Linked DNA regions of Homo sapiens: regions 2 and 3 are each linked to region 1. The links come from fine-mapping of genetic effects on gene expression. A gene starts in region 1. Each other region holds a variant in brackets. All regions are shown on one strand. Distances are from middle to middle.

The links. PIP is the estimated chance that this variant, and not a neighbour inherited with it, causes the effect. A credible set is the group of variants that fine-mapping cannot tell apart.
Region 2: its variant is the best candidate, but not a certain one, in a credible set for the expression of ADAP1 in whole blood (INTERVAL, PIP 0.65).
Region 3: its variant is the best candidate, but not a certain one, in a credible set for the expression of ADAP1 in whole blood (INTERVAL, PIP 0.77).

What each region holds. Positions count from the first base shown.
Region 1 is chr7:949,925-959,932 of GRCh38, forward strand. It overlaps ADAP1 (ArfGAP with dual PH domains 1), which reads right to left and starts at 4,756. Exons shown (of 11, transcript NM_006869.4): 1 at 4,472-4,756. The coding sequence starts at 4,553. It overlaps LOC124901569 (a long non-coding RNA gene), which reads left to right and starts at 4,930. Exons shown (of 2, transcript XR_007060178.1): 1 at 4,930-5,340; 2 at 5,444-5,566. RefSeq lists enhancers at 1-276, 3,206-3,817, 5,040-5,649 and silencers at 3,943-4,152, 4,443-4,932, 4,952-5,107, 4,963-5,062, 8,304-8,363.
Region 2 is chr7:1,090,823-1,100,830 of GRCh38, forward strand. All of the region lies in intron 2 of CHLSN (cholesin), which reads right to left. It overlaps GPER1 (G protein-coupled estrogen receptor 1), which reads left to right. Exons shown (of 2, transcript NM_001098201.3): 2 at 585-2,988. The coding sequence starts at 907. The coding sequence ends at 2,034. Among named protein-coding and RNA genes, the nearest start is that of GPER1, 7.7 kb to the left of the region's middle. RefSeq lists enhancers at 4,671-5,380, 9,687-10,008. The variant A/G (reference allele first, on the strand shown) is at 6,079.
Region 3 is chr7:925,527-935,534 of GRCh38, forward strand. It overlaps ADAP1 (ArfGAP with dual PH domains 1), which reads right to left. Exons shown (of 11, transcript NM_006869.4): 2 at 9,849-9,979; 3 at 1,027-1,118. Among named protein-coding and RNA genes, the nearest start is that of ADAP1, 24 kb to the right of the region's middle. RefSeq lists a silencer at 175-324 and enhancers at 2,509-3,095, 3,351-3,440. The variant G/C (reference allele first, on the strand shown) is at 6,381.

The sequences.
Region 1 (10,008 bases):
CCAGCAACTCCAGTCCTGGGTACAGACCCAAACAACCTGAAGCAGGGTCTCAGAGAGACATCTGCACCCTCGTGCTCACACAGCACGATTCACAATGGCCCAGAGGTGGGAGCAGCCCAGTGTCCGCCTGCAGACAAACGGGCACACGCAATGTGGTTCATCCACACAGGGTATGATCCTGTCTTCACATGCAGGGAAATCCCAGCACTCGCCACAGCATCTGTGAACCTGGAGACGTTAGACTGAGTGAAACTGGCCAGTCACAAAAGAATGAATACCAGCCGGGCATGGTGGCTCACACCTGTAATCCCAGCACTTCGGGAGGCCGAGGCAGGCGGATCACAAGGTCAGGAGATCGAGACCGTCCTGGCTAACGTGGTGAAACCCCATCTCTACTAAAAATACAGAAAACTTAGCCGGGCATGGCAGCGTGCACCTGTAGTCCCAGCTACTCGGGAGGCTGAGGCAGGAGAATGGCATGAGCCTGGGAGGCGGAGCTTGCAGTGAGCTGAGAAGGTGCCACTGCACTCCAGCCTGGGCGACAGAATGAGACTCTGCCTCAAAAAAAAAAAAAAAAAAAAATGAATACCGCATGGTTTCACTTCTACAAGGTCCCTGGAGTCATAAGATTCATAGAGACAGAAAGTTGAGGCCAGGCACGGTGGCTCATGCCTGTAATCCCAGCCATTTGGGAGGCCAAGTTGGGAGGATGACCTGAGGTCAGGAGTTCAAGACCAGCCTGGCCAACATGGCGAAACCCTGTCTCTACCAAAAATACAAAAATTAGCCGGGCGTGGTGGCAGGCGCCTGTAATCCCAGCTACTCAGGGGACTGAGGCAGGAGAATCGTTTGAACCCAGGAGGCAGAGGTTGCAGTGAGCTGAAATGGCGCCACTGCATTCCAGCCTTGGGAACAGAGCAAGACTCCGTCTCAAAAAAAAAAAAAAAAAAAAAACAAGAAAAGAACAGAAAGTAGAAGGGTGGGTGCCCCGGACTGGGGAGAGGAAATCTGGAGCCCTTGTTGAATGGGGACAGAGCTTCAGTTTGGGAAGATGAGGAGGTTCTGGAGATGATGGTGGTGGCGGTGGCACGGTGAGTGAACGTGCTCAAGGCCCTGGAACTGTGCACTCGAAACGATGAGAAGGTAAATTATTATTTTTAAAAAATCCGGCCAGGCGCGGTGGCTCATGCCTGGAATCCCAGCACTTTGGGAGGCCGAGGCGGGTGGATCACGAGGTCAGGAGACGGAGACCATCCTGGCTAACATGGTGAAACCCCATCTCTACTAAAAATACAAAAATTAGCCGGGCGTGGTGGCGGGTGCCTGTAGTCCCAGCTACTCGGGAGGCTGAGGCAGGAGAATGGTGTGAACCTGGGAGGGGGAGCTTGCAGTGAGCCGAGATCGCACCACTGCAGTCCAGCCTGGGCGACAGAGCGAGACTCCGTCTCAAAAAAAAAAAAAAATATCCAACCTAGTTGGGCCGCTGCCCTGGGGAGTGAAGGGAGTCTGCCCAGCCCCCGCCCACACTCAGCAGCCTTCTTCCCACCCTCACCCATGCCGGCCAAATTCCTGAAACTGGGAGTTGGAGGTTGCAGTGAGCAAAGATCGTGCCACTGCACTGTAGCCTGGGTGACATCGAGAGACTGTCTTAAAAAAAAAAATTAGCTGGGCATGGTGGCATGGACCTGTAGTCCCAGCTACTCAGGAGGCTGAGGTGGGAGGATTGCTTGAGCCCTGGAGGCAGAGGCTGCAGTGAGTTGAGATTGTGCCACTGCACTCCAGCCTGGGTGACAGAGCGAGACCTTAAAATAAAAAAGAACAAAAGAGCTCAGACACCCCAGTCCTTCCGGGGCATCAGATGGCCTGAGACTCAAAGAGGACAATATGTGTGTTTTTCTTTTTTTTGAGACAGGGTCTCACTCTGGCCTAGGCTGGAGTGTGATCACGACTCACTGCAGCTTCCAACTCCTGGCCTCAAGCGATCCTCCGGCCTCGGCCTCCCAAAGCACTGGGATGACAGGCGTGAGCCACCGCGCCCGGTCCCTGTCCTCTGTTGCGATTTGGCAGGCAGCTCCAAGGATGTACGGAGGCACCCCTCCCTCCCCCAAACCCCCTCCCAGGATGGAGACCCCCACCCAGGTCTTGCAGGACAGTGGGTCCAGGCACGCCCCAACTCGCCCACCTGCCAGGCCTGTGATGAGAGGCTCTCTGGGTGGCCGCCGGGCGAGGCCCCCTGTTCAAGGTCAGGGGAACCCACTATTGGGACAGGTCATGGGGAGAGTTTGGAAGGAGCTTCTGTGGGGGCCGCAGAGACCCCAAGACTGCTTCCCTCACACGGCCAGTGGGTGGGGCCTGCTCAAGTCCACCCCAGCAGCCCCAGGCCTGGCGTTCAGAGGTGGTCTGGGACTGTCTGATGTCCTGCTGTCCAGGTCTGCACCAGCCGTGAGCCAGTGCACAGGACAGTGTTCTGAGGACAGCAGAACGTGCCGGCCACCCCAGCCCCCATCAACACTGGAGTGGCTCCTTGTCACCCAGCTGGGCCACAGCAGGTACAGGAGGCCCCAGAGCAGCTGGCATCAGCAAAGAAGCATAGAGCCCTCGAGGATGTGCCATGGGGTCATGGGGGGCTAGGCAGCCCCCTGCCTCCTGACACCGCCTGTTCCACCCTGTGGCCACAGCCCTGGGGAGCGGGGACAAGCAGAGCGGCCGGGTGTGGCTCATGTCCCCTAAGACAGCTCCCTTTGCAAGGCATCAGTCTCCCTGGCTGTGAAATGAGAGTGACCCCTCACAGCATCCCCCCTCCATGGCGCTACCCGACAGAGGAGACAAGTCACTGAGGTCATGGACAGATTCTGAAAAGGCAGAGGTGCGGCCCTCTACCCGGCAGCGTGGGGCATAGGGACGGCAGAGAACAGCTCTGGGGTGGGCCAGGCTGGAAGCTTAGCAGGTGGGCCGGGCACACCTGCACCCACTGGGAGGGGAGGACCACTGAAGGACCCAGCAGGCCAAGGAAGTCCCCTCTTCCTCCTGCCAGGCTGGGAGGCCCAGAGGGTGGCTGGAGAGGGGCCCTGAGTCCAGAGAAGCTGCTCCCAGGCTGTGTGGCCAGGGAGCAGAGGTTCAGAGGCAAGCCCAGCTCCCCTCCCCGTGGGCCACAGCAACCCCAGGCCAGGCCCTTTCCCACTGGCTTTCCTGGGGAGCGTTCCTGAACAGGAGGAAATAAAGGTCTGTGGGGAGAGAGTCTGGGGTGAGCCAGCCCAGGGGGCCACCCCCACCGCACCATTGCACGGGCCCTGTGGCCGTCCTGTCTCAGGAGACCATGGAAAGGCCGTGGGTCCTGCCTGTCTTTCCAGAAAAGCCTGTCGCTATCTCCCCTCTGGGACACCCCAGCTCCTGATGTGGCCTTTCCAGCCAAGCTGCAGCTGGACAGCAGCCACCACGACCTGGGGCTGGCAGAGACCCCTCCATCCCAGAGGGAATCAGGGACACCCCTTTTTCCGGGGTGTCCAGAGGCTGCATATTGAACCAGGGCCTTGGAGGCAAATGCAAGGTCTTCCCCCGCTCCCTCCCTGGGGGCCTCAGTCACCGCCGGTGAGTTTAGGTTTGTTCCGAGGGGCTTAGACTATTGGCCCCCAGATTCCTGGTGTGCCTGGGGTGGCGGGACTGCTCCGGCGGGGCCCTCTCTCCACAGCGCAGCCGGCCTGGGGCTGACAGCTCCCGAGCAGGGCAGGGCTGGTCTGGGCACTGGGCCCCGTTCACAGCCAATGACAGGACCAGTGGCCTGGAAGGGAGGGACTCCGCGCCTTTGGACTCCAGTGCCTTGAAATCCCACAGACCTGGGAACCGAGTCAGGGATGCCCGGCCGGGAGAACGAACGGGCGGGCGGCGGGTGGACCAGGACCTGCGTCCGGCCCCACCTCTCCCAGGCCTCACCTGTCCTGGCGCCCGCCCCGGAGCAGCCAGGTGCAGGGAGCCGGGGGCAGGGGCGCCGCTCACACCCAGGGACCCCCGGTGCGGGAAGGGCGTGAGGCATGACGTCACCGCGAGGTGGCCCCGGAGCCGGCGGACCCCACAGCCCAGCAGAGACCTCCGGCTGGCGGCCCGTTCCCTCCCTGCAGCCAGCCCCGATTTCCTCTTTCTGTGCGGAGCCCGAGCTTTCGCAACGCGGCGGGCGGTCCGCGGTGACCGTCAGACACGCAGCCCGGCGGGGGAGGGGAGGCGGCGGCAGGGGGGTTTCCGGGGGTCCTGGGGGGGGCCCCCCCGCTGCGCCCGGCCCGGGAAGACGTCCGGGTCCCCGCAGGTGCAGCCGGGCCCGGGCCCCATCCGAGCGCCGATCCGGCCCGGTGTTCAGCGCCGCCACCCCCGCGGCGTCCGCGCTCCCCCGCCCGGTCCCCGGGGCCCACCCAGGACCCGCCCGGCACCCCGCGCCCACCCCGGACCCACCCGGCCCCGCGCCCACCCGGCCCACACCTACCCGGGGCGCCGCAGTCCGCGCAGCGCGCGTTCCCCGGCCGCTGCAGCAGCTCCAGGACCGCCCTGCGCCGCTCCTTGGCCATGGCCGCGATGCGCCCGCGATGCCGATGCCGGGGCCGGGGCCGGGAGCGTCAGCCCGGCTCGCTAGGGCCCCGCGCAGGCCGCCCGCCGCCGCCGCCCCTGCGCCATCCCGGGCGGCCTCAGCCCGCGCGCCGGTTCCGCATTCCCGCCGCCCTCTGGGCTCCGCCGCCGCCGCTCGTGTCTCCGCCGCGGTCGCTGAGCGAGTGCCGGCGCGGGGCCCGGGGCGCACGCTGCGCTCTGGCCGGCAAGGCCCGCGGGCGGCCCCCAGCGGTGCAGGCGAGCGTGTGGCCTCCTCCCTCGGCCGCTCCGGCGCCCCCAGCCCGCGCGCCCCGGGGACCCGCTGGGAAATCGCCCGCCGCCCGCCCCCCATCCGCGCGCAGCGTCCCACCTGCCTGGGCGCGAGGCCGCCCCAAAACCTGGCCGGCCTGGGTGGGACCCTCGTGCCGCCGCGCGCGGTGGGACGGAGCCTGCACACCTACTGTGGGGGGCGCAGAGGGCACCTGCCGAGCCCCCCAAGACCATGGGCATGGGGGTGCTCGTGGAAGGCAGGTGTGCGTGTCCTGTGCTACGGACCAGGACCAGGGCGCTCACACCATCCCTGCCTGGGAGGGACGGCCAGCAGGTGACAAACGCCAGCGTCCCAGGGCACTGAGGCCACACAGGGCCCAGACGGAGCCTCCCCCTGAGACCCACCCAGCCGCCCACCACCCACAGATGGGACCCTCTGGGCACCCCTCCCACTCAGGCAGGCTGAGGGGCCCCGCCGGGACTTCACATGGGGGCTGACAGGTAACAAAAAACCTGGTTTTGATGTCACCTCTTCCCAGACTCGCGTGCCCTTCCTCTGCACACCCCAGCATCTTTTCAAATTCTTTCCATTTTCTTCTTGCAGGGTTAATGCAGTACACCCGGCTGAAAACAAACTGGAACATACCAGACTGAAAAAGGAAAGCCTCTCCCCACTGCCTTCCAGGCAACCACTGTTAACAAATTCCTCAGCACCTTCCAGAACGAACGTCTGAGGCCTGTAGCCTTTCATTTATTTATTCATTTATCGAGACAGGGTTTTGGCTAACGGCTGTAATCCCAGCACTTTGGGAGACCCTGGCGGGTGGATCACTTGAGCTCAGGAGTTTGAGACCAGCCTGGGCAACATGGTGAAACCCCGTCTCTACTAAATACAAAGAAATTAGCCAGGCGTGGTGGCGCATGCCTGCAATCCCAGCTACTTGGGAGGCTGAGGCAGGAGAATCGCATGAACCTGGCAGGCAGAGGTTGCAGCGAGCCGAGATTGCGCCATTGCACTCCAGCCTGGGCAACAAGAGTGAAACTCCGTTTCAAAAAAAAAAAAAAAAAAAAAAAACCAAACAAACAAACTCAAAAAAAGTTCAACTGAACCATGACTTGTTCACCCAGTCACTGGCATAGGGGCATTTAGAGCGTTTTGAATGCATCAGAATCATGGTCTACACAACCTCATCTTTGCAAGAGTTTTGTGTGGATTTGCTCTCAAAGTGGCATCGCTGGGGCAATGGTATGGGATGTGGAATGGCCTCCACTGAGGCTGCACTGACCAGAGTGCCACCAAAGGCACCTGTCCCCCTGCTCCAGCTGACGTGGAATCATGGAGCTGCTTAAGCTCTGTCTACCTGAAGCAGAACGCGGCAGCCCGTTTTGGTCTGTGTCTCTGGGATCTGTGCCCTGTGGCATCACGTGCTCTTTCCCTGTAACCGTTCACATGGGTCTTTCTCCTCCCTCAGACGGGAGGCTTTGGGGTGGGGACAGGTGGCATTTTCATCTCTGGGTCCCTGTGCCAGGCTCGGAATCCACCACACAGCATGAGCTTGGAGAATGTCGCCTAATAAAGACAGACGAACATTAATAGCAGCAGCTCAGCACTAGGTATTAGGAGAAATAGCCTGACTTGTATTTTCTATTTTCTTTTCTTTTCTTTTCTTTTTTTCCTTTTTTTTTTTTTTTTTTTGAGACAGGGTTTTGGTCTATCGCCCAGGCTGGAGTGCAGTGGCACGATCTTAGCTCACTGCAACCTCTGCTTCCTGGGGTCAGGTGATTCTCCTGCCTCAGCCTCCTGAGTAGCTGGGACCACAAATGGGTGCCACCATGCCCAGGTATATTTTTATTTTTTGGTAGAGACAGGGTTTCACCATGTTGCCCAGGCTGGTCTCGAACACCTGACTTCACGTGATCTGCCTGCCTTAGCCTCTGAAAGTGCTGGGATTACAGGCCTGAGCCACCACGCCTGGCTTGACGTGTATTTTCTTTTTTCTTTTTTTTTTTTTTGAGACAGAGTCTTGCTCTGTCACCCAGGCTGGAGTGCAGTGGTGCGATCTCGGCTCACTGCAAGCTCCGCCTCCCGGGTTCACACCATTCTCCTGCCTCAGCCTCCCCAGCAGCTGGGACACAGGTGCATGCCACCACGCCCGGCTAATTTTTTTGTATTTTTAGTAGAGACGGGGTTTCACCGTGTTAGCCAGGATGCTCTCGATCTCCTGACCTCGTGATCCGCCTGCCTAGGCCTCCCAAAGTGCTGGTATTATGGGCGTGAGCCACCGCGACCGGCCGACATGTATTTTCTTATTAAAGCCCCATTTTCAGCTGGGAAGACTGAGGCACGGGGAGGTTCGATCCCTTGCTGGAGGCCACACACCTCAGGACTGGAATATACATAAAACAATATAACAAAGCAACACACCCTAACATAGCCGTTACCCAAGGTCCCCAAAGACGGGGAGGCCATCATACAAGGCATAGAAAAGGCAGCAGGGAGGCCTCAGGGGAGCCGGTGCCCAACAGGCCAGAGCTTCTGGCACAAGCCAAGGCCATCTACTGCCTGCTGTTCCGGGGCCTCCTCCGTGGGGCAGCTCCAGCAGGCGAGTGTCTTGCCTTCTCTGTCCTTCCATCCCGCTAAGGGAACTGTGGCATTGCTCGGGGGGCAGGAGGGCGTGAGGATGAGACAGAGGTGGGTGAACCCCTCAGATCTAAGAGATGTCGGGGCTGAGGGGGATTCTTCCAAAGAGGAGGCTGCTCGGCCGAGATCCGCAAGTACCTGCCTGGACCCGAGAGCACAGCCGTCCTGAAATCCTGCTGCCCTGACTGGCTGTGGTCAGGGCTGGGCGGGGCAGTAGGGGAGCCCAGGACTCAGGAAGAATCCGGAAGGTAACAGCATAGCTCAGGGTGGGCCAGACCCAGACCAGTGCTGGTCAAAGGCTGTTCCGGCCAGCAGCGGCTGGCGAGGGGCCTGGACAGGCGGCGTGCCTGCTCCTGCTCATGCCCAGTGGCCTACAAGCTCTGCTGAGCCTCCTGCCCCTTGTCACTGACCCGCACGGCTGCACCAGGGACCCTGACACTCATTCCTCAAGCATCTCCCTAGTCCAGAGCCAGAGGCAGCCGCCTCCTGTGACCACTCGGCCACACAGCAGACCCTGGGCAGGGGGCTCCCGAGAGCAGGGCGAGCTCCTCCAGCGTCGCCTGAGCACGGGGCCTGCGCGTGGTAGGCCAGCAGGCGACTTTGATTGGAAGCTGGCTCCTCCCAGGCCTGCAGCTGCGGGGTGAGCCTCTCAGCACAGGCAGAAGGGGGCTCTCCCCAGGGAAGGGGCAAATGGACTGAGGCCGGGCTGGGCCCTGCTCTGCGACCATCTTGCCCAACAGTCAGCCGAGCTTGCTCAACCAGGAGCTGCCTCAGGGGAGGGGAGGTTGTGGAGGTTCACTTCCCTCTCCACCCCGCACAGGGGCCGGGGCTAATTCAGTCAAATTATCTGCGCTTGGACAGCGTCTGGCACGATGGCCGTGAGCTCAGTAGGCCGCCCTGCAGGCCAAGCAGGGGTCTTCAACATCCAGGCTCAGCGCAGGGGTGGGCAGCTCCTGGCTCTACCTGCCTCAGCTGTGGGGATGGGGGTCGTGATGTTGGGCCCCCATGTGGCCGGCCCCCTCCAGGGAAGCCCACTGGCTGTGGCCTCCACCCTGTCCTCTGCGACGTGCCTTTGGCCCTGCGCAGACCCTCCTGGGCCTTCTGACTGCTGTGAGGGCCCTGCCACCCCTCGGGCACCTGGAGTAGGAGTTCAGCAGCATACGGATCCTAAAGAGCTCTGCTCAGGAGGGGCTTAAAGGAGACACGGGGATTCCCCAGAAATAGCCACTGCGCCCCGAAATGCAGGGGAGGGGGAACCACCCAGGACCAGAGGTGGTCTCAGCACAATTTTCTGGGAGTGGGGCTAGACCCGGAAACCCCTTTGGAAGCAGGGAGTCCTCAGGGGCCTCCCCAAGATGTCATGCCATGGAGGTGGGTGCACAGGTTGGCTTACTGGGTTTTGGGGCATTTGAACATATCTTTTGCTTGGTTTTCCAAACAGAGATGGGGTCTGGAGTGGAGAAGGGGGTCGTGGAGAGCCATCCCCATAACCGACGGGCTGGTGGCAGGTATGGAGCTGGGCACTGCGCCCGGGCAGGGGTCCTGCCATCCCCCATCCTTTCCTCCCCCGCTGGGCAGCTGGCGTTGGCCTGACCACTCCAGTCACGGCCCAGGTCTCCCCAGGTGCCATCTCTTGAGGCCTGGGACCAGCAGGGTCCTCGGGGGCCGGAATCACGCACTTGGCATGGGGAGGAGGCCCAGACCCGACGCGGGACCCCGGGAGGTGCTCTCCCCCCACCAGCCCTGGCCCCTTTCCGCAGCGACCATCGGGCAGTAGTGTTTACAAAGTTCACACCCAAATTGGTGCAGCCTCAAGAAACAGTTACTTATAAAGAACCCATACAACTCAGTAATAAAAAGGCAAGTGAACCAATTAAAAAAAGGGCAAAGAATCTGAACACATGCGTCCCCAAGGAAGACACACAGCCGCCGACAGGCACCGGAAATATTCAGCACCATTAGTCGTCAGGGAAATGCCAATCACACCAGGATGCAGTGAAGACCTGGCGGGGGGCCGGTGGAGGGAGGCTAGGATTTACAGACAGACAGTGCCGGTGAGGATGGGGGAAGCTGGCCCCTCCCACAGCGCTGGTGGGTGTAAGACGGTGCAGCCGCCCTGGAAAACGGGCTGGCATGGAGCTACCGTGGGACCCTGGAAACCCACTCCCCGGTATGCGCCCGAGGACGGCAGAAAACACGTCCACACGCACCTGGACACGAGTGTTCTCAGCAGCATCTTTCCTTTTCTCTTTTTTTTTTTTTTCTTTTGAGATAGAGTCTCGCTCTGTCACCCAGGCTGGAGTGCAGTGGCATGATCTCGGCTCACTGCAACCTCCGCTCCCGGGTTCCAGCAATTCTCCTGCCTCAGCCTCCTGAGTAGCTGGGATCACAGGTGTGAGCCACCACGCCTGGCTGATTTGTGTATTTTTAACAGAGACGAGGGTTTCACCATGTTGATCAGGCTGGTCTCAAACTCCTGACTTCGTGATCCGCCTGCCTCGGCCTCCCCAAATGCTGGGATTACAGGC
Region 2 (10,008 bases), 140 kb after region 1:
TTCCCAAAACAATGACCCCTTTCACTCTATATTACGAAAATAAGTTTATTTTTGGTACCTAGAACACAGAACTAGCATGAGGAAACCGCTGAACTTCTGTTTTATCGTAAGAGAAGATTCTGCTCTGATGTCCAGCTTTCTGGACCCACTCTCTCTCTCTCAGAAACACTGGCTTTCCCTTCCTATCTTACTTCTCCATCAGCTGCTGAAATGCATTTTCCCCTCTCCTCACAAATGCCGTTGTCCTGGGGCGGCCGTGCCCATACCTTCATTGCTTCCTGGGCCTGCTCTGTGGCTATAAAGGGAAAAACACCCCTGCCTGTGGGAGTGACTCACGTCCAGCCTCCAGCTGCAGCTGAGCAGCCGTGGGACCTGCAGGAAAGAAGGCCATGTACTTCCCACAGGCGACTCTTCCACCTCAGCTCAACCACAGCCACCTCCCGAGCTCATAAAGCTGAGGTTCTGGCCCTCCCCAGTGCTCCTGACACACCCAGACTCTACAGACACCCGGCCAGGGGAGCCAGGCCTTGTCCCAAAGCTGGGGCCACTCGATGAGACTTCATCCTCTCCTGTTGCTTCTCCAGGTACCCAGAGAGTGAGCAGCTCCACGCGGGACTGTGCACGGTGGCCGACACCCGCAGGGACGCCCGCCGGACGAGCACGCGGAGGGCCCTCGCCTCCACGGATGCACCATGCCGGTGTGAGGAGCATCTGTTCTTCCCACTCTCTGCAGTTAACAAACCCAACCCAAACCACCACAGGTGCTCCTCCTGGGGAGTTTCCTGTCTGACAAATGCCAGGCTCACTTCAAGGAGAATCACGCTTCTTTCTAAAGATGGATTCACCATTTAAAACAGAGCTCTGGGAGCCTTTCGGCAAATCTTGAAAGCTGCACGGTGCAGAGACATGGATGTGACTTCCCAAGCCCGGGGCGTGGGCCTGGAGATGTACCCAGGCACCGCGCAGCCTGCGGCCCCCAACACCACCTCCCCCGAGCTCAACCTGTCCCACCCGCTCCTGGGCACCGCCCTGGCCAATGGGACAGGTGAGCTCTCGGAGCACCAGCAGTACGTGATCGGCCTGTTCCTCTCGTGCCTCTACACCATCTTCCTCTTCCCCATCGGCTTTGTGGGCAACATCCTGATCCTGGTGGTGAACATCAGCTTCCGCGAGAAGATGACCATCCCCGACCTGTACTTCATCAACCTGGCGGTGGCGGACCTCATCCTGGTGGCCGACTCCCTCATTGAGGTGTTCAACCTGCACGAGCGGTACTACGACATCGCCGTCCTGTGCACCTTCATGTCGCTCTTCCTGCAGGTCAACATGTACAGCAGCGTCTTCTTCCTCACCTGGATGAGCTTCGACCGCTACATCGCCCTGGCCAGGGCCATGCGCTGCAGCCTGTTCCGCACCAAGCACCACGCCCGGCTGAGCTGTGGCCTCATCTGGATGGCATCCGTGTCAGCCACGCTGGTGCCCTTCACCGCCGTGCACCTGCAGCACACCGACGAGGCCTGCTTCTGTTTCGCGGATGTCCGGGAGGTGCAGTGGCTCGAGGTCACGCTGGGCTTCATCGTGCCCTTCGCCATCATCGGCCTGTGCTACTCCCTCATTGTCCGGGTGCTGGTCAGGGCGCACCGGCACCGTGGGCTGCGGCCCCGGCGGCAGAAGGCGCTCCGCATGATCCTCGCGGTGGTGCTGGTCTTCTTCGTCTGCTGGCTGCCGGAGAACGTCTTCATCAGCGTGCACCTCCTGCAGCGGACGCAGCCTGGGGCCGCTCCCTGCAAGCAGTCTTTCCGCCATGCCCACCCCCTCACGGGCCACATTGTCAACCTCGCCGCCTTCTCCAACAGCTGCCTAAACCCCCTCATCTACAGCTTTCTCGGGGAGACCTTCAGGGACAAGCTGAGGCTGTACATTGAGCAGAAAACAAATTTGCCGGCCCTGAACCGCTTCTGTCACGCTGCCCTGAAGGCCGTCATTCCAGACAGCACCGAGCAGTCGGATGTGAGGTTCAGCAGTGCCGTGTAGACAGCCTTGGCCGCATAGGCCCAGCCAGGGTGTGACTCGGGAGCTGCACACACCTGGGTGGACACAAGGCACGGCCACGTCATGTCTCTAAACTGCGGTCAGATGTGGCTTCTGGCTCCTCGGGGCCTCGCGAGGGTCACGCTTGCCTGGTCACCCTGGGGCTGCTTAGGAAACCTCACGACTGGTCACCTTGCACTCCTCACACAGAATTGCTACAATCCCAAAGCGCTCGCCCCGCAGGGTCCAAAGGCCAGCGGTGACCAGCCTGTCACCCAGCTCCTCCCCGCCAACCCTGCCTGCCGCTGCACCTGCCTGCCGCTGCAGGAAACATTTCTGACACCGTCGACCAGGAAAGCCACACGGAGAGGCCACTGTGGGTGAAGCGCCTCAGTTACACAGGAACCCTAAAGCAAATCTGCCACCGTGGGGGAACTGACGCTGGAGATGCAAGGTGCTGGTGGGTCTGAGCTGGACGTCGCGGTGTGTCCTCTGTGCCCACGGTCTGAGCTAGCTAGCGCACCGCCGAGTTAAAGAGGAGAAGGAAAACATGCTGCTCTGGTGCACGCCTGAGCGTCCTCCATCTTCCAGGATGGCAGCAATGGCGCTGTGCGGCCTCACCAGGCCCACGAGGAGCAGCAGCGCTCGGCCCGGAGCAGCAGGAAGGCCCCTCTGTGGAGCGCCCGCCGTCTGCTCCGGGGTGGTTCAGTCACTGCTTGTTGACATCAACATGGCAATTGCACTCATGTGGACTGGGACCGTGCGAGCTGCCGTGTGGGTTAGTCGGGTGCCAGGACAATGAAATACTCCAGCACCTGTGGCTGACGAATTTGTTTCTACAGAAATAACAGCTGGGGACAACTGCGGTGATGATGTAAAAACCTTCCCATAAAATGTAAGAAAAGCTGATGAGGCTGGTGACGTTCAGCCTTTGTCAATAAACCTGTCATGTGCGGATCCTTCCGGAGGCTCTGTCTTGGGGGTCTGCCAAGTGGGGTGGGACGTGGGGTGGGCATGGGGCACTCGGGAGAATCCCTCCCCCCTCACAGAAAACACAGCCCTCCCCTGCCACCCTGAAAACTCTCACAAGGCCAGCCTCTGAGTCCGGCCAGCCGGACCTAACCTGGCATTTCCAGGCTGTCCAAAATGCCGTGGGGGCACTTCTGTGTCATGCTTGGGTGCCATGACAAGCTTCCCATGAATGTAGGAGGCAGGGCTCAGCCTTGTCCAGCAGCCTGTGCGACCTAAGCTGCCTTTCTAGAAGGCTCTCGGCCGCGTGCGAGGCCCAAGAGCTCTGCGGCACCCAAGCGCTCCTGGAGCAGCCGGCCGGGAAGGTTCCTGCTCCTTCTCCCATCACCGGGGCTGGATCCTGGCGCTGCTCCCCTCCTTTCCCGCCTCACCCACCTGGCAGCAGCTGTCCCTGATGTTAACAAGGTGCACCTGAACCAGTGCCTGCTTCTCCGTCTTCACAGAAACCTGCGCAGGGCGTCGGGATGTGTGGGTGAAGGGAACTAGCCACCTGTACTACCCCCTCACTTTTCCTGTGTTTGCGGTTCTGGTCTGTTTAAAAGCTATGATACTGTTTTTTATTTGTGATAACATAAAGTTTGATATGCAAACATATTGAAAGGAAAAGGCCAATTAAAGAAAACATCTGCAAAAGAGCAGGGGGTGAACGGGTGCGGCACAATGAAGACTGAACGCAGCCATGTTGAGTCCAGGAAACTCTCTCCTCCTGTCTGTGGGACATAACACAACCACAGTGAGTCCAGGAAACTCTCTCCTCCCGTCCATGGGACATAACATAACCACACATGAGCCCAGGAAACTCTCTCTCCTCCTGTCTGTGGGACATAACACAACCACAGTGAGCCCAGTAAAACCTCTCTCCTCCCGTCTGTGGGACATGAAGCTGTGTGTCGGTGGGTGTGGGAAGCCTGGGTCTCTCAGGCAGGTGGGGCCTGTATTCTCCATGACCCCAGCACCGTGGTGCTGGGCTCCTCAGGAACAGAGCGCTGCCCAGACCGTGGCCTGCAGGAGCGGCCTCTGTGCCCACTTCTATCAGGATTGCTTTCCTCATAAATGGCTCACCGGGAAGCCTGGGAACAGGGCGGCTCCCACACACTAACAGGTCTCGTGGAAGTGGAGATTGCTGTGGGGTGGCCAAGCCAGAAGCCAGGCTCACGTGTGGCACAGTCCTGCAGAACACCGTGCGTGGCTTGAGCCACGACTCAGGCCCGGCGCACCCCTCCCTCTGCCCTTCCAGAGCCTGCCCTGCAAGTCACCCCAGCTAAAAGGACATGGCCATCACACTGACATCCGTGCTCTGGAGCTCCTTCCAGGCCCCAGGGACGAGACTTGCCCTCCTCCCCAGGGATGTACTCGCTCAATGCCCAGGACAGCCAGGCAGCAGCCCCCCAAACCCCCACCCCCCACACCTGGGCGCTGTCTTTACAACAATACCCAGGACAGTCACGCAGCAGCCCCCAAACCCCCCTCCCCGACACCCGGGCACTCTCTTTACAAGATGCATGCTTCAATGAAGCTCCCCTTTTGACCTCAGTGTTGCTGATGGGGAAAAACCATCCAAGTCCCAGAAAGCAGGCGGGGTGGGTGCTCTACCACCAGGCACCCAACTACCTGTCAGGCATTCCCCACACACAGTCCCGTTCACATAGCTTCAACAGGGGCAAGGGCAGACGCTTTAAAATACGCAGACGAGAGACCCAGCATTTCTGACTTCCAGTTCTGACGAGCTGACGTGGGGAGACCCACACGGAACGTGGTCTGGTCCCCACCCCTCACAGCAGCCCCGTGGGGTAAGCGCTGTCCCCACCACACCAAGGAGGCACTAGAAGGGTCAGTCACTGCTCGAAGCCTTAAATGGTGGGTGACACAGCCAGGAATTCAGCCACGCTCTCCTGGCTCAAAGCCCACAAGCTCTGTAGCACTCGGCAACCCCTGGCGTCTAACTGGCAAAAGCACGCCATGCAGAAATCATACAGGGCTGGGGGCCATGGGCATCGAGGGGTCACCCAAGGTCACCAGCCCAACCTCCTCTAAAGCCTGCTGTGCGGGAAGTGCAGGGACGGCAGCAGCGGCAGCGGGGAGGGCTCCCTTAAGGTGATCTGGGTGGGAACTGCGTCTGAACAGAGCCCCAGGCATCAATCAGGGACGGGACTCAACTCATTCCTCCACGTCAACCCACCACAGGGAACAGTGCTGACTGTGGCGTCCTTCCCTCCCTGCCACAGACGCGGCTTCCATCCTGCCCGCACCAGACACCGCTGTTGAGTGCGTGGAAGCGTCACGCCGCCCCACTACGCCGCTCCTCTCCGCCAGGTCTCTTCTGGGGACTTGCCCAAGGCTCTGGGCAGACAGAGCTGACACGCCGCCATCTAGCCGCCGGAAGCAGACTCTTGACCTGTGAAGCTGGCGGCGGCACTGCTCTGAGGCCAGTCACACGAGCGACAGGCACCCAGCAGCCAAGCCACCGGGCTGCGGTAAGGGCAGGTGCAACACTGAGGTCCCCACGCAGTAGAGCCAGCCTTGGACCCTGGGCCCTGGAGTCCCTGACCCTGAGATCCCAGAGCTGGGAGCTGTAGGACAGAGACCAGCAGGCCGGGCAGGGACTCCGTGGGTGCCGCCGGCGCAGCCACACACGCCCTTCTCAAGCGCTTGCCTGGGAGCCAGGGCAAATGTAATTGTTTTTGGCAGGCCCACGGTGAGATAAAATCAAGGCGTCTTAACTGCTCTGCTGTCTCCTGGTAACCCAACTCTCCTACATGAGTGCTTTTTAAACCCAGAAAGAGCTCAAAAGTACATAGCTGCAAGCATGGGAAAAACCCCCGTGTTAGCACTGAACGTGACCTCCTCGTTCTTTGTGCTTAACAATTAACTCTTGACCTCACGAGAGTGACACGGCTTACCCGCCCTTCCCAGGCCCCGCACCTCCCACTCAGTGAGAAGCGGCAGCGGTGGGCTCACTAATGCTCACGCGCCCACTCACCTGCAGTCTTGGGGGGCAGGGTGGGGGAGAGAACTACA[A/G]AGAAACCTTCTTAGGAGGGTGTTTCTGTGGCGGGGTGGGAAGCCATTCCAAAGCCGTCCTAGACACCCCGTGAACTGGGCACATGAGGCAATGTGAGGAGGCTCCTGAAGCCGGGGCTCTCCCAGCAGAGGCGGGAGACAGGGCAGGCGAGGGGAGCCCATGGGAACGGGTCAGGGCTGAGGACAAGGCTTAACCCAGACATTGAAAGTAAGAAGCAGCACACAGACTACGCGAGTACGTTTGAACACTCACAGACACACGCTCACATGTTCCAAGCTCTATCTCTGCAGCCCACCTGCACAGGGCCTGGCCCCGAACACTGCCACCCTCCAGAAGGGCCCAGGACTCCGGGAGAAATGGCTGATTTGGGCCGGGGCAGGGAGAGACAAGATGAGCCTGGGACAGGTGATTCTGGTTGAGACAAGAAAGGCTCCAAGAGCACGTCGGGTGACACCCAAAGGACACGGTGTCCTCGCCAAAGCTGGGACAACGTGAGCAGTAAGATGAGTAAGAAGAGACAATCGTGATAGACCATGAAAAGCAGGAGTCTGCAAGTCTACTCCAACAACAAACAGACCTAATATAATTTAAATAAAATGAAAGAATGCATGAATGGGAAGAGTCTCGTTTCTAATAAAGTGCTGGCTGGTAAAGTAGTTGGAAAAGCATCACTCTGCACCTTTCAGAGGGAGACGGGGGCAGGTAAGAGTCACAAATGGAGGGCGAATCTCAGGGGGCAGTGAGGTGCAGGGGACTGCAGAGCCTACCTGTCCCCCACGGATGGCTCATTAGTGCTCGGGGAAAGGTCACCACACAGTGGAGACGGGACAGCCCCTCGCTGGGTGATCACATGGGCAGCACCAACAAGGAGGCCGGTCCAGATGCTACACCCTGAGAAGGGTGCGTCTCGTGCTGTCATCTAGGAACGCACAGCCTGAGTCTCATCAGGAGGGAATGTGAGATAAACAGGAAGGGAGGACGGGGAACCAGGATGCATCAAAAATGTCCATGTGACAAAAGACAAAGGCAGAGCAATCATCCCAAACTCAGAAGGAGGAAAGAGATGTAACAATTCGACACAACAGGGATCCTAGATGGGTGCTCTACCAGAAGGAAAAGAGCGTCGTGAAGGATTTTATGGGGTCAGTCGACAAGAATGGAATACCCCGGGAGATAAAAGTGCTGCCTCAAAGTCCATTTCCCGAGATGGGCAACAATGCCTCTTAGGAAGCCCACACTGGAGTGTGCAGAGGGAAAAGACGGGACTGTGCGAGTCACCCCCAAGAGGCTCCGTGGCGGCAGGATGCACACAGCAAGTGGGGTGGGTGCACAGCAAATGCACAGGACAAACGTTATCCACTCCACGCCCATGGATCAACCTCAAAGAACCGGAAACATGCATCCAAGCAAGCATTTGTTCGTGAATGTCCACAGCAGCACTGTCCACAAGAATCAACACGTGGAAACAACCCAGATGTCCATAAGCCAATAGACGGAGAAACGAAATCAATCTATCCAACAGTGGAATATTACTCTGCCATGAAAAGGAACAAAGCGTGGACCACACCACAGCATGGTGGACCTGGAAATGCCACAGTCAGGAAGATAAAGTCACAGTCAGGGAGATAAAGCAGACACGAGTGGAGACGCCACGCTCGGTGAGATAAAGCAGACACGAGTGGAGCTGCCACGCTCAGTGAGATAAAGCAGACACGAGTGGAGCTGCCACGCTCAGTGAGATAAAGCAGACACGAGTGGAGCTGCCACGCTCGGTGAGATAAAGCAGACACGAGTGGAGCTGCCACGCTTGGTGAGATAAAGCAGACACGAGCACAATGTCCACTGCGTGCGTCCGCCAATGTGAAACGTGCAGGGCAGACAGGTCCACAGGACAGAAGGCTGGGAAGCGGCTGCCGGGGCTGGGGTGAGCGGGGGACGGGGAGCCACTGCTGACAGGCAATGGAGTTTCCCTGGGGGTGAAGAAAACGTTCTAAAATTAGATTGTGGCGATGGCTGCACAAGTCTGTGACTAAAAATCACCGAGGTACACACTTCAGAAGAGTGGATTTCTGCTATGTAAATTACATCTCAGTAAAGCTGCCATTGAGACCACAGTACCCATTCAAGCGCCGGGCTGTGTTCCTGCAGCTGGCCTTCCTTTTCAGAGCCTCACTGTCACGTTCTTGCAGCGGCCTCCCCTTCCGGAGCCTCGCTGTCGCGTTCCTGCAGCCGGCCTCCCCTTCCGGAGCCTCGCTGTCGCGTTCCTGCAGCCGGCCTCCCCTTCCGGAGCCTCGCTGTCGCGTTCCTGCAGCCGGCCTCCCCTTCCGGAGCCTCGCTGTCGCGTTCCTGCAGCGGCCTCCCCTTCCGGAGCCTCGCTGGTCTCTGCAGACCAATTCTGTCCCTCTGAAGCACAGGCCACCATCGGACAGTGCTGGCTAACAGCCGCCCTGTGCTGGTGGGCCACGGGGACGCCAGCCCAACACTCCACACACACTTCGTTAGCAGCCACAAAACATTTCCTAAGAGCGGAAGGGTTTCCGCCATCTGGAATCCTAGACGCCATCCAGCATTTATTGTAAAGCTTCTAATTAAAGCTTTCTCTTCTCGCTCACCGCCTGGTAAGTCGAGCTTTACTTTTCTTCTCCACGGTGGGAAACTCATTACCTGGAGTGTCTTTGGATGTACTTTTAAATTAAAAATGGAGGAAAAGAGCGTTAGTCAAAATTAGAGCTGAACTGACTGAGTCTCTCTGGACTCCCTCAGAAAGTGGAGATGCCAGCTCCGCCTCCTGCAGAGCTTGGTTGCCAGGGCTGGGTCAGGCTGCCTGGGCGTTGCCGTCTGACCTGTGCACAGATGTGGCCAGGTGAGGACACAAGCTGTTGTCTCGTTTGCTGTGTGCTGTTCGCAGACACGTCTCACTAGGCGGTTTGCTCAGAACTCCAGAGGACAAGGGTACGTCATTCAGGCCACGGTGCAGCAGACGCACCTGACGGCGGGGACTCAACCACGGCAAACCCTGAGTAATACCGTGCGGCAGATGCACCTGAGGGTGGGTTCGGAGTTCCAATCTGAGCTATGGAACCTGGGTATGGACAACTGGATAATCCACTTCTCATTTAAGAGGAACATCTGAGCCCCCGTCCCCGTTCTGTGCACCGCAAGCCAAATGGGAGGGAGAGCCTGTGTTCTGGGTTACATGAAGGTTGCCAGGTGGAGGGTGCTGAGTGGAAATGCTATACATGCCACTTGCCTTTTTCAAGCAGGTGCGTTCTCCTGTCCAGCCGGCCACCACTGCACCCTGCCCCGTATGAGCCCTCAGTGGAGCCCCATGTCTCGTTTGCTGGCACTAGGCCTCTTCTCAGGCCTCCTGAAGCTGCTGCCAGCCCACAGGAGCCGACAGAGGCTGGGTGCCGTGTTCAGGCCACTCTCGCTCTTCAGGTCCGGCTGGTGAGCAATTCTCTGGGAGAGAGTGGACACCAGAGGCAGGCAAAGCCACACCTGTGGGTGCAGGCCACACGCAGGCTGCACAGACCCGGGACAGGTCTGAGCTCTGAGGCGTGCGGCCCATCTCCGCGGCAGGAGCTTCTGTCTGAGCCTGGGGAGGAAAAGCCTCCACCTCACCAAGCGGCGTCAGCTGGGGAGCCTGGGCCGTGCGCCCTCAAGAAGCCATGGCTGGAGGCCTTTGCTCCAGACATGACCAGCCCCTGCCTTCCTGGCTCTCTGGCAGGTGGTGAGTCAGCTGACCCAGCTCTAGCGGAAACAAAGTGGGGGCTGGGGGAGGGGCCGTCTGTGAAATGTCCCCAGCCGGAGCCCCTCACTGTCCCCTCTGCCTCCCTGCCTCCCGGCCTCCACAGGGGCTTCTTGTGGTTAAAAAAAAAAACAAAACAAAACCCTTTCTGAGCACTTTACCCATCTCGCCCACAGGCAGA
Region 3 (10,008 bases), 24 kb before region 1:
CTGATCCCACTGCCCCTTCATGGAGCTCACTGCAGGGGGCACAGACCCCAAACAGGGCCCCGGATGCTGGGGAAGACCCCCTGGTCACTGCAGTCCCCACCAGCAGCTCCTGGGCAGGCAGAGCCCAGGCTGTCTCAGCCCCCGAGTCAGGGCAGAGCCAGCAACGGCACGTGGGCCCCTCATGGGCTGGGAGGCCAGGCGCCCGCCGCTTTCCTGCGGCACTGTTGGCTCACACCCAAACCCTGCACCCAGCTCGTGCTCGGGGTATCTCTGCGGGGTGGGCCCTCTGCTGAGTGGGTTCACGGAGTGAGTCAACGGAGGGCGGTGCCCAGTGAGGCTGGGATTGAACCAGGGCAGGAAGCATGGGGGGCCGGGAGGGCACCCAGTGGGCCAACACGTCTTTCCCCTGTGACAGGTACGAGGGGGTCGGTGCGAACAGTCAGGCTGGGCCCTGTGTGGTTGTCACCTCTCATTCCCACCGTCCGGGCAGATGGGGAGACTGAGGCTTGGAGGGGCGGGTGTTGGTGAAGGCGGCTGATGTGATACCGAGCAGGCCTCATTCCCTCTCTCCACAACCTCCCGATCCCAGGATGCTCAGAGGACTGGGTCTCAGGCTTCCCCAACCGGCCACCGGTACCCACGTCCGCTCCCGCCCTGAGGAGCCAGGGCAGGCCCCGAAACAACAGCCGCCCCTCCCGTTCCCCTCCCAGACCGCCAGGAGCACCTGGGAGGGCCCCTCAGATCCACCCGAGACCCCCAAGGCCTCAGCGAACCTGGGTGGGCTGTAGCTACTGATGCACAATGACCTTCCCAGCCCCACCCCAGCGCCCCCCGCCCCAGAACCAAAGCCCGGTGGTGGCCAGCAGACACAGGCGGCACCTCGGGGTCTGGGGGACGCAGCTGCGGCTGGCTTCTCCCCGACCCTGTGGGCGGCACCCAACTCCCCACCCTGCCGGGTCCTCCCGGGGCCATCTCGGAGCCACCCAGCACTTGACCATGGCCCTGACAAGGCCCCTTTGTACTCACTGGCAGTCGGAGGGCGTGGGCCGGTAGTAGAAGGAGGGTACTTTGGACTCAAACCTGGCTCTCGCGGCGTCGTTCCCGTGGGAGGCCATGAACTGCAAGAGAGGAGGGGCCGGGTCAGAGGCCTGGGGTCCCAGGGGCAGCCTAGGAGGTGCCAGCTGCCCTTGGGGCCGTCACCACAGTGACCCGCAGACCCAAGGCTCTGAGGGCTCCACCAGCACCAGGACGGGAACGCCACCTCCTCCTGCCCCAGGGACACCATTTCTGAGTGATCGACCCTCCCCTGGGACAGGGAAGGAGCCAGCGTCCCTAACGACGGGGTCCCGGCAAAGGGGGCCCAGGGGCCAGGCCCCTTTTGAGGATGGGTCTGAGGTTTGCCCCACCGTTTCAACCCCCAAGTCCACCCACACCGGGTGTCCCGTGGGAGAGAGCTGGCTGCATCCTGTGACCCCCATCTCTGCCCCAGAGAGCGAGGGCTTCCTCGTTCACCCAGCTCCCCAGCTCACATTTAGCAAAGAGCCAACAGGCGCCAGACACGGGGGCCTGGAGATGGGCTGGTGAGCGAGAGACCCAGATGTGGCTAGGACAGAGTCTCTGAGGGGACTCTGCAGGGACACACTGCAGGGACCCAGAACATGTTTACGAAACAGGCTGAGGGAGAAGGAAACGGCGCCGTGAAGGAGGGGAGGTGCTGCAGGAGGCTGTCGTTCCAGGAGGCTCGTGCTCCAGGAGGCTGTCACGCACACTGTGCTCCTGGCAGGCGCAAAGGCCCTGAGGGTGGACGCTGGCAATGACCCTGCCGCCAGCCAGGTATGGTGAGCCTTGAGCAGCAGGAGGGGCCGCCACACCCCACGCCAGCCCCGAGGGCATGGGAGAGGTTCTGCTTGCTATGCTGTAAGCCCCCAAGGCAGCTGCTGTTTGCACCTTCAAGCTCCTGAACACCACTCGCCTGAGGCCGCAGCCAGGCCCAGCCAGACTGAAGTCCCCTGACATCACCCTGCTCCGAGGATCACATGGCAGTAAACAGGGAGGGCCCAGAAGAGCAGCTGGAGAAATCACAAGCAACAAGAGGCTGGCACCAATTTAAAATTCGAAAACCAATGGCTTTTCCATAGAAAACTCAAATACAAGGAGAGATCCTGTCACCAACAGCAACAGGACAAATCACCTGAGTGGCTGGATGAGAAATGTCCCAGGTCTCCAAGGGAAAACTGGCGTGTGCTCCCGAGGACGAGAGCCTCGACCCGAGACACAGGGAGGTAGAAAAATGTCTCCTTATGGGAGTCTACATGTTTTTTATAATAATTGCCAAAAAACAGCAACAGAATTTATTATATTTTTTTACCTAGAAATGGTTCTAAAGTTGAAAAAATTAACAAGGGCCAGCCGGGGACAGGGGCTCACATCTGTAGTCCCAGCACTTTGGGAAGCTGAGGTGGGAGGACCCCTTGAGCCCAGGAGTTCAAGACCAGCCTGGGCAACATAGTGAGACCCTGTCTCTCAAAAAAAAAAAAAAAAAAATTAGCCAGGTGTGATGGCGCACACCTGTAGTCCCAGCTACTAGGGAGGCCGAGGTGGGAAGATGGCCTCAACCTGGGAGTTTGAGGTCGCAGTGGGCTATGGTCGCACCACTGAACTCCAGCCTGGGCGGCAGAACAAGACCATGTCTCCACTGGACACAGCGGCTCACACCTGTAATCCCAGCACTTTGGGAGGCCGAGGCGGGAGGATCCCTTGAGCCCAAGAGGTCAAGGCTATGAGCTATGGTTACACCACTGCACTCCAGCTTGGGAAAAAGAGCAAGACCCTATCTCTGCAAAAAAAGGAAGGTAAAAATAAAAAATAAATAAAAATGGGTAAGGGTTTTTAAAATTACTTTTACATGCATATGTATACTTTTAATTTGTTTTAATGGAGGTGGGGTTCCACTCTGTTGCCCGGGCTGGTCTCAAACTCCTGGGCTCAAGCCATCGTCCCACCTCGGCCTAAAAATGGGGAAGGATTTGATCGGACATTTCTCCAAAGAAGATGCACAAATGGCCACTCGGCCACGCAAAGGCACTCAACACTGTTAGCTGTCAGGGGAACGCAGATGAAAACCTCAATGAGCTACCACCTCTCCCCACTAGGATGGCAAGGTCAAAGTGGCACAGGGGAGTGAGCTGGAGAGAATGTGGAGTGATCAGAGCCCCCGCACGCTGCTGGTGGGAACCTCCGGCTCTGGTGACTAACAGTCTGGCAGTTCCTCAAAACGGTAAACACAGAGTTACCATAGAGTCCAGCGATTCCTCTGCACCGTAAGAGACGCGAAGACGCAGAGACATGCACATGAGTGTTCACAGCACATTCTTCGTGACAGCTGAGAACGGGAACAAGCCCCAGCTCCGTGAACGGAACCACAGATAAACTAAATGTGATCGAGCCACACCATGGAGGGTTCCTCGGCCATAAAGAGGAATGCCGGCCGGGCGCGGGGGCTCACGCCTGTCATCCCAGCACTTCAGGAGGCAGAGGTGGGCAGATCACGAGGTCAGGAGTTCAAGACCAGCCTGGGCAACACGGTGAGACCCCGTCTCTACTGAAAATACAAAAATTAGCCGGGCGTGGTGGTGCACGCCCGTAATCCCAGCTACTCGGGAGGCTGAGGCAGGAGAATCGCTTGAACCCGGGAGGCAGAGGTTGCAGTGAGCAGAGATCGTGCCACAGCACTCCAGCGTGGCTGACAGAGCGAGACTCCATCTCAAAAAAAAAAAAAAAAGAGCAACACAATTCTGACACACGCTACAACCCAGGCGATCCTTGGACACACGGTGCCCATGGAGGAAACCAGACACAAAACACCACGAATCGGCCGCACGTGGTGGCTCACACCTGTGATCCCAGCACTTTGGGAGGCTGAGGTGGGAGGATCGCTTGAGCCTGGGAGTTCGGGACCAGCTTGAGCAACATAGTGACACCCTGTCTCAAAAAAAAAAAAAAAAAAAAACAAGACCACGTATTGCATGATTCCATCTGTTTGAAATGTTCAGAACAAGCAAATCCACAGAGACACAAAGCAGCTCTGTCTACATTCAGTAACGGCTGGGGCGGTGGTGATGGGAGGGGTGGTGAGTACCGGCTGTGTTGGGACGTTAAAATGTCCTGAAGTTAGACAGTGGTGATGGTCGTGCAGCCCTGTGGCTTCACTAAAACTACTGAACTGTACGCTTTACGGGAGTGAATTGTATGTGGATTATACCTCAACAAAGCTGTTATTAAAAAATAACCTTCAGGGTTGGGTGTGGTGGCTGAAGCCTGTAATCCCAGCGCTTGGGAGACTGAGGCGGGAGGATCACTTGAGGCCAGGAGTTCAAGACCAGCCTGGGCAACATAGTGAGACCCCCGTCTCTACAAAAAATACAAAAATTAGCCAGGCGTGGTGGTGCACGTCTGTAGTTCCATCTACTCAGGAGGCTGAGGTGAGAGGATCGTTTGAGCCCAGGAGCTTGAGGCTGCACTGAGCTGTGATTGAGCCACTGCCCTCCAGCCTGGGTGACAGAGCAAGACTGTCTCAAAAAAAAAAAAAAAAAAAAAAAAAACCCTCAGGCAGAGAAGGCCTATTTATGTATGCTATAGACCCTAAAACCACAAAATAAAACGCTGACCACTTTGACTATGTCGAAGTAAAAATTTCCACGGCAAAAACCACCATGAGCAAATTCGAAAGACAACCTAGAAAAAAATGTTTTTGGTATCTCAGATTAATTTCTCTAACATACCAGCAACCCCTAGAAGATGAAAACAGCTAACATTGCAGCAGAAAGGCAGGCAAAGGTGTGAAGAGAGTTCACAGGCAAGAAAACACAGGGCCGGGCGCGGTGGCTCACACCTGTAATCCCAGCACTTTGGGAGGCCAAGGCGGGCGGATCACGAGGTCAGGAGTTTGAGACCAGCCTGGCCAACATAGCAAGACCCCATCACTACAAAATTTTTTTTTTTAATTAGCCAGGGCTGGCGCGGTGGCTCACGTCTGTAATCCCAGAACTTTGGGAGGCCGAGGGGGATGGATCACCTGAGGCCAAGAGTTCAAGGCCAGCCTGGCCAACATGGCAAAACCCCGTCTCTATTAAAAATACAAAAATTAGCTGGGCATGGTGGCACACACCTGTGATCCCAGCTACTCGGGAGGCTGAAGCAGGAGAATCGCTTGAATGTGGGAGGTGGAGGTTGCAGTGAGGTGAGATCACACCACTGTACTCCAGCCTGGGAGACAGTGAGACTGTCTCTAAAAAAAAAAAAGTAGCCAGGCACGGTGGTGTATGCCTGTGGTCCTAGCTACTCCTTGGGAGGCTGAGGCAAGAGGATCACTTGAGCCTGAAAGTTCAAGGCTTTAGTGAGCTATGATAGTGCCACTGCATTCCAGCCTGGGCGACAGAGTCAGACTGTGTCTCAAAAAAAAAAAAAAAGAGAAAGGAAGGAAGGAAGGAGGGTAGGGAGGGACGGAGGGACTGAGGGAGGGAGGGAGGGAAGAAAGGAAGGCAGGAGGGAAGGAAGGACGGAAGGAAGGACGGAGGGACGGAGAGACAGAGGGAGGGACGGAAGAAAGGAAGACAGGAGGGAAGGAAGGAGGGAGGGAGGGAGCGAGGCCCACACAGACCCCTGGCTGCCTGGCCAGGGTGGGGACGGTGCTCAAAGGTGGGAGACAGGGAAGGAGACAGCTCCCTTCTGTGACTGTCCTTGGAAACTGCTGAATGTGTCACTAAATTGTCGAAATACATTAAATAAGGTAGAGACGACCCACGTGTCCATCAGAGGGTGAATGAATAAAGCAAACGTGTTCCATCCACACAAGGCATGTTCTCCGGCCTTGAAAGGAACGAAGCTGTCACACAGGCTGCAGCGTGATGGGCCTCGGGGACCTGGCACCGCGGGAAAGGAGTCGGACGCCGAAGCTCACACGCCGTGCGATCCCGTTTTTAAAAGTCCAGAACCCACAAATCTACACAGAGAGAAAGTGGATTTGCAGCTGCTTTGGGCTGGGCGGGGGTAAGAGCCAAAAGGCACGGACTTCCTTTCTGGGGTGATGAAAATGTCCTAATATTGGCTTCAGCGAAGGTTGCACAACTCTGAATTTACTAAAAAACCTTCAACTGTGCCCTTTACACGGTGAAATGTATGGCTGTGAACGGCATCTCTAGGAAGCAGTTGTTTTAAAAGGTATTATCAAGGAATAGAAAGTAGGGAGAAAAAAAAAAAAAAACATAAAATGTGAAGAAAAGGAAAGAAGAGAAGAATCTTTGGTTCCTGGCCCTTCAACCTCGGTCCGGTCCTCAGCAACGGCCACCTCAGGCCCGTTTCTCCCTTAGGGGTGGGAGCAG[G/C]CTTAGCCCCCGGATGTCCCCGCTGACCACCAGCCCAGGAATGGCCAAGGGGCCTGAGTGCAGGGAGCCAGGGGGGGCCCAGTGCAGCTCCCGCCCCACAGAGTCCCCAGCAAGAAGCCGGGCTGAGACCCAGCCCTGCCTGGGGGCCGGGGTGCAGGTGCTCTCAGGAGACAAGCCCCCAGGCCTGCCTGAGATTCATCTTTGGTTTTTATCGCACCAGTGAACGTGCAGACAACAGAATGGGGATGGAATCTCCTTGTGGCCCCCAGCTCAGTGCTCTCCCAAAGGCCCCATCGCACCAGACCTCTGCGGCAGGAATCAGGGGTTTCTTGGTAATACCCACGGTGGGCCCTCCCCAGCCTTCCTCTCCAGCCTTCCTCTCCGGCCATCACCCCAGGCAGATCAGGACAGCACCAAGTTGGCCCCTGTCCTCTCCCGCTGATTACATTTAGGGTTTTTCCAACAACAGTGAACGCCCCACCCCTGGGCCCTTGCCCCGTTTGCCCTGGAATTATGGGGACAATAGCCACGTCTTCTCCCCGAGCCAAGGAGTCTGTGCCCCTGGAGGCCCTCCAGGGACTCAGGGCTGTTTCCTCCAGGAGTGATGGCAGAGCAACTTGGAGACGGGACACCCGTCCCATCATCTTTCTGACATTGGTCCCCTGTTGTCCGGGGAGGGGGATGGTCCAGGGGCCACCCTGCCCATTTTTTAGGGAAGGAAACGGAGGCTCAGACAAGCCCACAGCCTGGCGAAGGGATGGATGTCACATCCCAGTGTCCCCCCCTGGGTCAGTGAAGGTGGGTCGAAGGGCGAAGGGACGGATATCACATCCCAGTGTCCCCCACCCAGGTCAGTGAAGGTGGGTCGAAGGCGGTGAGCCCAAGGTGGGCCGGGGTCCTGAGGGGATTCGCAGGGACGCCCTCAACTCAGGGTGTGGGGGATCACGGCATTAAGTGCAGAAGCTGATTTGGGGTCGCCCTGGGTGGGTCAGGGACTCTGCTGTCCTTGGGTCTTTTTCTGTCTCCCAGGCTGGAGCACAAAGGTGCAATCACAACTCACTGCAGCCTCGAATTCCTTGGCTCAGCCAGGCATGGTGGCTCACGCCTGTCATCCCAGCACTTCGGGAGGCTGAGGTGGGTGGATCACCTGCGGTCAGGAGTTCAAGACCAGCCTTGCCAACATGGTGAAACCCTTCTCTACTAAAAATACGAAAATTAGCCGGGCGTGGTGGCGTGCACCTGCAATCCCAGCCACTCGGGAGGCTGAGGCAGGAGAATTGCTTGAGCCCGGGAGGTGGAGCTTGCAGTGAGCCGAGATCATGCTACTGCACTCCAGCCTGGGCGACGAAGCCAGACTCCGTCTCAAAAAAAAAAAAGAATTCCTGGGCTCAAACAATCCTCCTGCCTCAGCCTCCTGAGTGGCTGGGATTACAGGCACCACCCCCACACCTGGTCGAGGCACTGGGATCCCAGCTGTGATTTCTAACAAGCCTCCAGGTGTGACCCATGCACCAAGGCTGCCTGTTAGAAGCAAATGAGCTACTCCCAACCAGGGGCAGGGGTCAGTGGTGCTGGAGAGCCGGGGGCCGGGGTCAGTGGTGCTGGAGAGCCGGGGGCCGGGGGCCGGGGTCAGTGGTGCTGGAGAGCCGGGGGCCGGGGTCAGTGGTGGTGCAGAGCCGGGGACCGGGGTCAGTGGTGCTGGAGAGCCGGGGACCGGGGTCAGTGGTGCTGGAGAGCCGGGGGCCGGGGTCAGTGGTGCTGGAGAGCCGGGGGCCGGGGTCAGTGGTGCTGGAGAGCCGGGGGCCGGGGTCAGTGGTGGTGCAGAGCCGGGGACCGGGGTCAGTGGTGCTGGAGAGCCGGGGACCGGGGTCAGTGGTGCTGGAGAGCCGGGGGCCGGGGTCAGTGGTGGTGCAGAGCCGGGGACCGGGGTCAGTGGTGGTGCAGAGCCGGGGACCGGGGTCAGTGGTGCTGGAGAGCCGGGGACCGGGGTCAGTGGTGCTGGAGAGCCGGGGGCCGGGGTCAGTGGTGGTGCAGAGCCGGGGACCGGGGTCAGTGGTGCTGGAGAGCCGGGGGCCGGGGTCAGTGGTGCTGGAGAGCCGGGGGCCGGGGTCAGTGGTGGTGCAGAGCCGGGGACCGGGGTCAGTGGTGCTGGAGAGCCGGGGACTGGGGTCAGTGGTGCTGGAGAGCCGGGAGCCGGGGTCAGTGGTGCTGGAGAGCCGGGGGCCGGGGTCAGTGGTGGTGCAGAGCCGGGGACCGGGGTCAGTGGTGCTGGAGAGCCGGGGGCCGGGGTCAGTGGTGCTGGAGAGCCGGGGGCCGGGGTCAGTGGTGGTGCAGAGCCGGGGACCGGGGTCAGTGGTGCTGGAGAGCCGGGGACTGGGGTCAGTGGTGCTGGAGAGCCGGGAGCCGGGGTCAGTGGTGCTGGAGAACCAGGGGCTGGGATCAGTGGTCCTGGAGAGGGGGTGCCAGAGTCAGTGGTGTTGGAGAGGGGGGGCCCAGGGTCAATGGTGCTGGAGAGGGGAGAGACATGTACAGGAGGCCACCAGCCTCTACGACCCTCCCCATCCCCACAGCAGCCCCCAGACCACCACTCTCACCTCCATGCGGCCCTTCGGTCCCACTCACAGCAGTCAGGAAGATCAATGGCTTCCAGACCCCAAGTCCCACGAGTGGGGCTGGGGTGACCCTCCCACCGGGTCTTCAGGCCCCACGCTCCATCCGACCTGCAGCCCCCAGCCGGGGTCTTGTTCCTTCTCCACCTCCCTCGGGGTCTCCCTACGGGGCCCTTCCTGCCGCCTCCAGCATGCGTGGCCCCTCCCTGCACGCCAGGGCTTCCTGGTTGGCTCACACCCGTCTCCCTCCCCATAGGGGCGTCTCTAGGGCCCCACGAAGCATCTGTGGCTGGTGTCCCTGCCTGGCCATGCCAAGTGCTCCGTGAAGCCTCATCAGATGCATGGGTGAGAGGTGGGCAGTGGCTGTGTCACCTCAGAGGCCGCCCAGGGGACAGGTAATGGTGCCCTACACGGCAGCGGGCCGGGGTGCACGTGGACTGCCGTGTAAATGCGACCCTGACTCTGGGTCGTGCCGCGCGGCCTGGGACGCTGCATTCTGTTTCCTTAGAGACAGGGTCTCTTTTACCCTGAGCCCAGTGCTCCAGGTGTGGGGATTTGAGGGGAGCACTCCGGAGCTCCCAGGGCACGGGAATCGGCGACCCGCCTTCGCTCCCTGGCCCACCACACACACCTGGAGCTGCTCACAGAGAGGTTGGACCCGGCACGGGGTGGGTGGAGCAGCCACACAGGCGGAGCCGCTGGAGAGGGGGCGGGGTCCTCGGGTCCAGCCAGCCAGGCCCCCAGAGTAGCCCAAGGCTCCAGGGGCCACAGCCAGGCCGCCCGGCATCTCTGGCTCCAGAGGCCCGGGCTGAGGCCACCCGGGGACTGCGCGGGTCCCCCCGCCCCTCCCCCTCCGTACCTCCACTTGGGCCTCCTCCCAGGCGTCCAGGCGGACGGACTTCACCTTGCTGACCTGGGGGATATTCCGGTGGATTCCCGAGCAGCTCAGGCAGATGAAGACGCCCAGAGTGTAGGAGGCCCAGTCGGGATCTGCAAGGGAAAGCCGGACGTTCACGGAG